2 separate regions of the Homo sapiens genome follow, and region 2 is linked to region 1. Evidence: fine-mapped expression QTL. Tissue or cell type: whole blood. Region 1 holds a variant in brackets; the other region holds the start of a gene. All regions are shown on one strand. Distances are from middle to middle.

Region 1 (5,147 bases):
ATGGGAAAATGCAGGCTAGCTGTGTGCTAGGGATGGAGGTGAAGTGGGTTTTGAGTAGGGTGGCCCATGTAATTCATCCTTCAAACCAGGACCTTGCTAAGAGTGAAAGGTGTGATCAAGTTGTGCCAGAAAGGCAGGCACCAACTGAGACAGGACAAACGGTCACCCTGGGTTTGTGAGCAAAAACAGGCAAAGACAAACAAGACAGTGTTCTTATTTTCCTCATTGCCTGTAGAAGAGGAAAGCATGCGACCCGGCCTGTTCTACGCTTGGTTGTATTTCTCACACTTGTCAATATACCCGGGTCTGTTTATGCAGACAGCCTCTACTGAGTGGTTGTTTTTGTTTAACTTTTGCACAATGAACCTTAATGCATCTTTGTTTATTGAGCCAGTTCCTACAGATGGACACAAGTCATTTCAGCCTTTTCAATCACAAACAATGGTGCGGTGTTTTATACTGCACAGACATCATTTTAGGTCCAGTTTAAATAGTAGTAGTGTAGGCCAGGTGCGGTGGCTCACGCCTGTAATCCCAGCACTTTGGGAGGCTGAGGTGGGTGAATCACCTGAGGTCAGGAGTTCGAGACCAGCCTGGCCAACATGGTGAAACCCCGTCTCTACTGAAAATACAAAAATTAGCTGGGTGTGGTGGTGCGTGCCTGTAGTCCCAGCTACTCGGGAGGCTGAGGCAGGAGGATTGCTTGAATCCGGGAGGCGGAGGTTGCAGTGAGCTGAGATCACGCCATTCACTCCGCCTGGGCAGCAGAGTGAGACTCCATCTCAAAAAAATTAAATACATAAATAAATAAATAGTAGTAGTCATGAAATGAACACTTATGCCTTTACCATCTGTGAACATATGCATCTCAGATTAATGCATTATAGAGTTTTTCTTATTTCTGTACTTTATATAAATAAGATCAGATTCAAGGTATTCTTTTTGTTATTTTTCTTTTCTTTCTCTATTTTTTGATTTGGGATCGTTCTCTGTCACCCAGGCTGGAGTGCAGGGGCACAATCTTGGCTCACTGCAACCTGGAACTCCTGGGCTCAAGTGATCCTCCCGTCTCAGCCTCTCGAGTAGCTAGGACTATGGCCATGTGCCACTACACCCTCTAAGTTTTCTTTTTCTTTTTTTTTTTTCTGTAGAGATGGAGTCTTGGTATGTTGGCCAGGCTGGTCTCAAATTCCTGGGCTCAAGTGATCCTCCCGCCTCAGCCTCCCGGATTGCTGAGACTGCAGGCCTCTTTCGGGTGGTCATTCTGGCTGGCTGCAGGTATTCTTTTTAAATTCTGTGTTCTCCTCACTGTTGCTCAAAATTATGATTTTTGACACATGCGTCCATTGAATGAATGTTAGATTCCATTGAATGACTGTACAGTTTAAAAAATAGTTGAGTTTACTTTTGAGGGTTCTTTGGACCATGGCCAGTGTTTTGTGTTTTGGACCGTGCTGTACAGACACTCTCTGTCCTTTCGTGCCCGTGTGCAGCGTTTTCACTGTGGTTACGCCCGACAGCAGATGTGCTTCCTCTCAGGACAGGTATGTATTTCCTGTTGCTTCCCATTCTCCTCTTGACTTTCTTTTGCATTTCAGGCTAAGCAGCTTTTCACGTCTTTGCAATTTGAGTTTCCTCATTTGTAAATGCCCCTCTGAGTCTTTTGCTCATTTTCCTATTATATTGTTTATCTTTTCCTTATTAGATTAGCGGGGTTCTTTCTGTATTTTGAATACAAATTCTGTGTTGCTCATTATTGTTGAAATATTGTCAGCTTGTGACTTGTCTTTTCCCTCTTTATGACGTCTTTTTTTACTTTTATTTTTTATTTATTCTTATTATTTTTTATTTTTTAGTAGAGATGAGGTTTCGCCATGTTGGCCAGGATGATCTTGAACTCCTGGCCTGAAGTGATCCCTTTGCTTTGGTTTCCCAAAGTGCTGGGATTACAGGCATGAGCCGTAGCACCCGGCCTTTATGGTGTCTTTTGATAACAGAAGTTCATAAATGTAACGCGGTCAGGCTGGTCGATCTTGTCCTTAGGGTTGGTGCTTTTTGGTTTTGTGCTTGAGGATCCTCCCCCAGCTGTGGTCCCAAGCACCCCCTCACCCAGAGCAGGCAGTGACTTGGATGTTTGGGTAGCGAGCTCTGGGTCAAGTTCCTGGCCCACACCTGCCAGGAACACTCAGCTCTGACTTGCCGTGGAGCCCCCTGTGCCTACTTTGCTGTCCACCCTGGGTGGGTGTGCCCCTGATGCACTGCTGTCAGCTTCCCCTTTGGATCTGGAATTTTATTTTTCTGTCTAACGTGCTTGTCCCCGGTTGGACTGGCCTGTATTCCTTGGGCAACCCAGCAGGTGGCTTGGCCTTTGGACAATTAGCTCCTCTGCTCCCCTGAGGAAGGGAAGGAAAGCCCCAGCGAGTGGTGGAGTTGGCTTCCGAGACACTTTCCAGTGACAGGTCTCTCCGGAGCTGGGGTCTCAGGGCAGGGCCTGCAGGGAAACGTGGACTCACTGGGGAGGAAGTATAGCTTGGCTCTGGGTTTGACGACAATGACGATGGTGACGATGATGATGACGACGATGCTATTTTGTTGTTGTTTTGGGGTTCACAGGAGCTGAGAGGAAGAGCAAGGGTTTGCAAATGAGGAAGAAAGCTGGGAAGTGGTTTCATGCAT[T/C]TCCTCCTCTCTCCACGTGCCAGAAGGTGCCACTCGGAGGCTGTCTTCCCAGCCTCTTGAGGACAGGCAGAAGTCCTTGTGGCCTCAGTTAAAGGAAAGAAGAGAGAAAGAAAAGAATGAAAGCAAGAAAAGGGGCCAGGAGGGAGTGTGAGCTGCAATCCCAGCATCCTGACATGTGCCCTCATGCCTGGTCACATGCAGGCACGTTGCACGCCCGCTGGGCACAGGCCGCTTGTGTACCTTGGTCACTTATATTCTTAACAGCCATCCAGGACCCCGTCGAGTGCATAATACAGCCGTGTACTAATATAGCCATCCTTAGCAGCCGTCCGTGCACTAATACAGCCGTGCGGGTGGGCTGCCGTGCGCTAACCTAGCCGTCCTTTTGATGTTGGGCATGGGGTCATTTCCAGGGTCAGGTTAGATGTTCTAGACAGACCCAGCAGTGGGTAGCTTTAACTAGTACTTTAGTCCTTCCTTTCCATTATTTCCTTAAGCTACATTCTCATAAATGAAATTTCTGGGTAAATGATGAATATTTTTATGGTTTTAAAAAGACAGCATCAAATTTCTTTTCAAGGACAGGTGCTAATTTGGAAAATCCCAAATACATGTATCTATTAGAGATGGCATCCTGCTATATTGCCCAGGCTGGTCTTCAACTCCCGGCTTCAAGCAGTCCTCTTGCTTTGGCCTCCCCAAGTGCTGGAACTACAGGCGTGAGCCACAGTGCCTGACCCCTCGTAATTTTTAAAGATAGAGTGGGGCAGGAAAAGCTCACCAGAATGTCTCTCCAGCCCGTGAAGGGCTCCAGTCTTGGTGTCTGGAAGGCTCTAATCAGCAGCTCTGTTTTTACGGGGCCAGGCTGGAGCAGACAGGAAGGCTTTATGCTATCTGACTGATAAGGTTGTCTGGGGACTGTTTCCACACCACCGGTTTCTGTGCTTGTTGCTGTGGGCTTGGGTCTGGGGACCTGGGACCTGGCACGGAGCTATGGGGGCTCTGACTGTCTCAGACCCTGCCTCTGCCATCTTAGAGCTCACACTTTAGGTAGGGGGGAATGAAGCAACCGGTGCTCTCTAAGCAGAGTCGGGAAGCCTCATGTACCCAGGGCCTTGCTTTGGCCTCTCAGGGGTCGCAGGCAAGACTGGCTTGGTCAGGCCCAGAGGGTGCCCTGGGAAGGTGGGCCTCTCAGTTCAGGCTGGAAGCCCAGCTAGGGTGGTCAGGCCCTGAGGGCTGGAGGTGTAGGTAGAAAGGTGCCCTCAGGGAAACAACAGAAACGCCCAGTCCAGTGGCAATAAAGCCCCAAGGACAGGCAGGCAGTGCAGGGCACCCCCAGGCCGCCAGCCCAGAACCTTTCCCACTGGGGTCTGGGCCTTTCCATGGGCAGACAGAGCCCCACGGGCCAGGGCTGAGGGATCCATTGTCCCCACACTAGCAGGGCCCCTGACCCACTCGCATCCAGCAAGCGCGGCTGACCTTTCTCTGGGTGCTTGGCCGGAATCCAAGCCCATTCTTCCGAGCACCTCAGAGGGGGGTCAGGGCCTCAGCAGGGACCTGATCAGGACCTGAGGGTGGACAGTTTCACTTTCCCTCAGATACAGGGTGGGAGGCTATTTGGGGACAGGAGCCCAAAAGGGCCTGTCTGCTCACTCAGACCAAAAGTGGGATAAAACCAAAACCACTTCCTGGGAGGACAGCGTCTAGGGTGTCAGAGCCCGACACCGCTGCCCTCCACGCCTGCCTCCGCTGAAGTGGGTTCTGGGGGCTCCGAAGGTCAGCAGGGTTCCGGACGCTTTCCTGGGACTGCCCCTCCCAGCTGTGCAGGCTCAGAGGCTCCTCCACCCACTCCAGCATCCACAACAACAACAAAAATAAAAATAGCTCACACAGGACTTTCCCCATCCCAGCTCTGTGGTAGATGCCACTCTCATTACTCCCATTTTACAGATGAGGAAACTGAAGCACAGAGAGGTCAAGAAACCTGCTCCAGGTCACACAGCCAGTGAGCAGTGGAACCGGGGCTCAGAGGGAGGCAGTCTGACTCCAGAGCCAGAATGTACAGGCTTTTCATGTTGTGAGACGACAAATACATACACACGCGCCCACCAGAAGAAACCTACAGGCTGGGGCTGGGGGCAGAGTGGGGCTCCAAAGCCAGCAGACCTGGGACTGCATCCTAGCACTGCTGATCCCCAGACAGGTGACTTTGGTCGATTATCTTTTACATTTAGAGACAGGATCTCACACTGTTGCCCAGGCTGGAGTGCAGTGGTTGCAATCATAGCTCACTGCAGCCTTGACCTCCTGGGCTCAAGCGATCCTCCCACCTCAGCCCCCCAAGTAGGTAGGACTACAGTTGCATACCACGCCTGGCTAGGTTTTTAAACTTTTTGTAGAGATAGAGTCTCACTGTGTTGTTCAGGCTTGTCTTGAACTCCTGGGCTCAAGCGATCCTCCCACTTCAGCCT
Region 2 (5,147 bases), 100 kb before region 1:
AGGTGGCGATGAACTTTAATAATGTGTCATAAAGAGTCACACTCATGAACACAGAAGGGAAGTTAAGTGATCTGGGATTTTTGAACACATTTCTGAATACTGGTCTGGAATCACTATGGAGGACCGTTTAACGTGATCCAGCAGAAAGACTCATTTGGAGACAGAGCCGGACTCCCGGAGCCCCTCCAGGTGGAACTCACTCCACGCAGAGCTCAGACTCGGTCCCACACTCCTGATCCCTGATCCATCACAGCCCACCTCTTGGGCCACTCCTGTGCCATTGGGACTTTCATGGAATAACTACAGTTAAGGGCTTCCTTACAAGTGTTCCTGGTAACAGTTAATACCTCCCCTTCTTTTATGATGAGAAAAATGGTCAATGATTCCCTCAACAGAGAAGGCCAGTAGCACAGTGAAATCAAGAAGCCCGGAACATGAAAAGTCTTTCCTCAGCTCCCTGCAGTGAAATCCCTATAAATGCGAATCACCCTGCCTACTCCTTACCTTTAAAAATTACTTAGGGTGAGGGGGCTTTAGGATGAGGACAGCCTTGGCCTCCAGGGGGCTGTGGGGAAGGACGCATGTGTGTGCATTGGGGGCAGATGTTCCAGACCCTCGTTGTCCTCCCTGGCTCCTTGCTGGTATTGACTAGTGGGGCTGGGCATGGGACAGGCCTTCATACTGGGGGTACCAGTCCTGTCCAGCTGTTTGGGTCTCTGGCTGTCACTGAAGTTCTTGATTCCAGGTATTTGCTACTGGCTGTGAAATCCCCACTTAGGATAGCCTTGTCTCCTGAGCCAGGCCCCTTACTGGGACACTTTTGGATTCTTCCCCAGGAGAACTGCCTCAGCTCAACAATCCAGCTGCTCCTTCCAGATGTGCTAGAGCTTGCCCTCCTGCTCCTAGGCTGCATGCCGGAATTGGTCCCTGCCCCTGGCAGACTTCTACAGGACCTCAGTTTCTCTCTTCTCCTTCCAACCCTCTCTTGGCCTGGCATATCCCTCTTCTCCCAGAGGGAGTTCCCGTATGTCTTACTCTCCTTCTCCAGGGAATTGTAAGCCCTCAGGCTCAGCCTTTACAAAGAAAAGGGTATCCTTTCTACATTACGAAAGACCCCCATTAAGCCTGCAGGTGAGACAGGTGAGACTGTTAACCTAGGAACTGAGGGACAACTAGGAACCAGGATATTGAGGAGGACAAAATATTTGGCATCCTCAGAATATTATTCCCATCAGATATTTATATACTTTTTTTTTTTTTTTCCTTGAGACGGAGTTTCGCTGTTGTCGCCCAGGCTGCAGTGCAATGCAATGGCACGATCTCGGCTCACAGCAACCTCCACCTCCCGGGTTCAAGCGATTCTCCTGCCTCAGCCTCCCGAGTAGCTGGGATTACAGGCATGCACCACCACCCCCGGCTAATTTTGTATTTTTAGTAGAGTCGGGGTTTCTCCATGTTGGTCAGGTTGGTCTCGAACTCCTGACCTCAGGCGATCCGCCCGCCTCAGCCTCCCAGAGTGCTGGGTTTACAGGCGTGAGCCACCGCGCCCGGCCAGCTTTTCACTGGACACTAGTTTCGAAGAAAACTAGGTAAGTCTAAAGCAGGTTAGAAAATACTGAAATCGTTGAATATGCTACAAAATTGAACATCTGAATCTGGCCAGATTCGTACTTCATGTAAATCACTGTGAATGATGGGGCTGCTGAATTTGGGGGATCTGGTGACTCCTCGGCATTTGTGGTTTATGGTCTTAGTGGAAACCTTTTTCGATGGTTTTCGAGCCTGTAATTCATGGTTGTATGTTCTGTATTTTTCCCAAGACCACTGCTGGAATCCTGTATTCACTGCATAATGAGTATTTTATTTTTAGATGTGGATCACCCCTTAGGGAGGGGCTCTGTGGGAAGGTAGGTAATGAACTATTTTTAATATAAATCACAAGTGTCAAAGAAAGTGGTAATATCCAAAGAATAAACAAGAGTGACCACCATTCAGGTGCCGAGAAGGTATCTGAAGCTCCCACAGGCATTTTAAACTGTGTGATAGTATTTCAACCATTTGGTCAACAATGAAGAAAGATCCAAGGATTGCCCCAGGCATGTGTTTATTTGATTCAATGCAGGTAACTTCTCAGGCCCAGGGAAACACTTTGCCCTTCAAAAGTTTCATTAGAAAACCCCAATATACTGGTGACTAAGTAACAAGACTGAAACTCTACACAAACTTTCGTTGTATGGAGACCTCCGCTTTTGCTGCCTTAGCTGAAGTATTGCAGAGGAAATGTATAAAACTTAAAATCCAGAGTAGAGGATCTGGGACCCAAAATCCGTCTTTAGAAATCCACGGCACTTTTACAGACGGACTATATTAAAGTAGGGACAAAGTCCCAGGCTGGGGGTACTAGCCGGCTATCTGCCCACACAGTATGTAAATGAAAGTAGGGTTTACCATCCAGGGCATTAACTTCATTTTCCTTGTCTTCGAGATCCATTAAATGCTAGTACTGTATGAGAAGCGTGGACCTTAAGTATTAAAGATGGCTTTTTCTTCTTCTTCTTCTTATTTAGCGTAGAAACTAGCAACAGGGAACAAGGTAACTGAATTCACGGTCCACTCGCAGGCGCGCACGTCCCCAGGGCTCCGGGACGGCTGTTCCCTGCGTGCGGCCGCGGGACTGCGGACAAAGCTGCAGTGTGGTCGGGAGCGCGGGGCCGGGAGCGCGGGGCCGGCCCGGCGGCAGGAAGGGCGTGGCCGTGGGGTGCAGCGAGGACGGCCCGTGCGGGAGGAACGTGCGCAGCGTGGAGTCTGGGGGCCGAGAAGCCCCCACTGCAAGGCTGGCTCCCGAGATTCGCGCCCGGGCGCCGCGGTGCGGGAAGCGGCCGTCCTCGCGGGGACGCCCTTGCGCCGGGTGCTAGGTGCGGATCACGGGCAGCTCCGGCCCCGCGGGCGCCGGGCGGGGGCCCACGCCCCCTCCGCCCGCCAGCTCCAGTCGCAGACCGCGCGGGCGGGGCGCCCGAGAGGGCTTTTTTTTTTTTTGGTCAAACTTCGGCCACGTGAACCGCCCCTCATTCACTTTTGCGCCAATCGCGCGGCGCGGACGGATCCCGAGAGGGGCCACGGCTCGCCGCCGGCGGGGCCACTTCATAACGCGCCGTGCGTGACGTGAGGGGCTCCTGTTGCAATGGCGAGCTAAGCCGGAGGATGTGCAGCTGCGGCGGCGGCGCCGGCTACGAAGAGGACGGGGACAGGCGCCGTGCGAACCGAGCCCAGCCAGCCGGAGGACGCGGGCAGGGCGGGACGGGAGCCCGGACTCGTCTGCCGCCGCCGTCGTCGCCGTCGTGCCGGCCCCGCGTCCCCGCGCGCGAGCGGGAGGAGCCGCCGCCACCTCGCGCCCGAGCCGCCGCTAGCGCGCGCCGGGCATGGTCCCCTCTTAAAGGCGCAGGCCGCGGCGGCGGGGGCGGGCGTGCGGAACAAAGCGCCGGCGCGGGGCCTGCGGGCGGCTCGGGGGCCGCGATGGGCGCGGCGGGCCCGCGGCGGCGGCGGCGCTGCCCGGGCCGGGCCTCGCGGCGCTAGGGCGGGCTGGCCTCCGCGGGCGGGGGCAGCGGGCTGAGGGCGCGCGGAGCCTGCGGCGGCGGCCCGGCGGGCGGAGCGGCGCGGGCATGGCCGCGCGCGGCCGGCGCGCCTGGCTCAGCGTGCTGCTCGGGCTCGTCCTGGGCTTCGTGCTGGCCTCGCGGCTCGTCCTGCCCCGGGCTTCCGAGCTGAAGCGAGCGGGCCCACGGCGCCGCGCCAGCCCCGAGGGCTGCCGGTCCGGGCAGGCGGCGGCTTCCCAGGCCGGCGGGGCGCGCGGCGATGCGCGCGGGGCGCAGCTCTGGCCGCCCGGCTCGGACCCAGATGGCGGCCCGCGCGACAGGAACTTTCTCTTCGTGGGAGTCATGACCGCCCAGAAATACCTGCAGACTCGGGCCGTGGCCGCCTACAGGTGAGCCCCTGCTCCCCGGGCACCGCCTCCTGCGTCCGGCATCCCGGCGGCCGGCATCCCGGGTGCTCTCCTGGCTCTCGCCTCCGCCCGCTTCCTAGGCCCTTCTTGGGCTTCCGGCGGGATCGGGTTGCCTCTCGGGAGACGCCGGGCCGAGGGAGAAAAGATCAGAGGCGGGATGGTGAGCGCGGCGCTCAGGAACATGGCCTTTGGGGTCAGATGGACTAGTGTGGCCTCGCTGGGTGTACCTCTCACCCTGATGAAGGCACTTTAGCCTTTGCAAATCGAAGCTTCTCGTTAGAAGGGCCCGACAGATCGGGTCTCCCTCATAATGTTGGAAAACTCATAGCACAGTACCTGATAGTGGAGGCAGTTGGGGCTGATACTGGATTCCCTAAAATGTGCACCTTTGTCCTTGCAAAGCTGGAGCCCGTGTACGTTAATCTAGTTCTAGAACCTTTCCACATCATACTCTCACATTTCGCAGTTGGAGGCACTCCTATAAATGAAAGAGAATGCCCGCAGCATATTGGACCACACCAGTCTGTTGAGTACAGAGAGAGAGAACCTTGGGGAAAAGCAGTTCTTGGCCCTTGGTAGATTCAGTGGAAAACTGCATTCTGGTGTTAATTAGTTCAGCTTGGTGGTGTATGCATGTTATCCAGTAACTGGGCTCTAGTTGGCCAAATGAGTCATAAAAGCAGCTGGAATTGTGTTCAGGTTTAACAAAGGGATTAGCCAATGTAGTCTCTAGAAGGGAGATGATTTTGGAATGGCTGGCATGGTTAGAATCAGATTTGTATTGGAGTGAATTTGAAGTTGGAGAGGGTTGTAGACTCGATAAAGGGATTTGATGGAAACCCTATATGTGTGAAGTATAGAGACACTTACTGTATGGATAAAGTTTGGGTCTTATCCAGCCACAGAGCAAACCAATGTGGGGAATGGTTTTAGAGCATCAGTTGTCTGGTAATGAAATTTCAGAGCAGCCAGTGCTGAGCCAGGCTAAGCTGGTTGCTGTTTGTTCTTATAACCAATACCTTTACACTTCAGTTTTTAAATGCAGTCTTGGTCAGATTTTTCAGGCACTAGATGTTGTGAGGGGAAAAGCATATATGGTCTCCCTTGCCTTTAAGGGAGAAAGTAAAGGACTGAGAAAGAAGGTGAAAGT

The links. PIP is the estimated chance that this variant, and not a neighbour inherited with it, causes the effect.
Region 2: CHSY1 starts here. The variant in region 1 is fine-mapped to the expression of CHSY1 in whole blood (TOPMed, PIP above 0.99).

Annotation. Positions count from the first base shown.
Region 1 is chr15:101,147,851-101,152,997 of GRCh38, reverse strand. It overlaps LRRK1-AS1 (LRRK1 antisense RNA 1), which reads left to right and starts at 1,159. Exons shown (of 3, transcript XR_001751724.2): 1 at 1,159-1,278. The variant T/C (reference allele first, on the strand shown) is at 2,677.
Region 2 is chr15:101,249,969-101,255,115 of GRCh38, reverse strand. CHSY1 (chondroitin sulfate synthase 1) reads left to right here and starts at 3,068. Exons shown (of 3, transcript NM_014918.5): 1 at 3,068-3,979. The coding sequence starts at 3,660. RefSeq lists silencers at 2,604-2,983, 3,154-3,463, 3,654-4,083.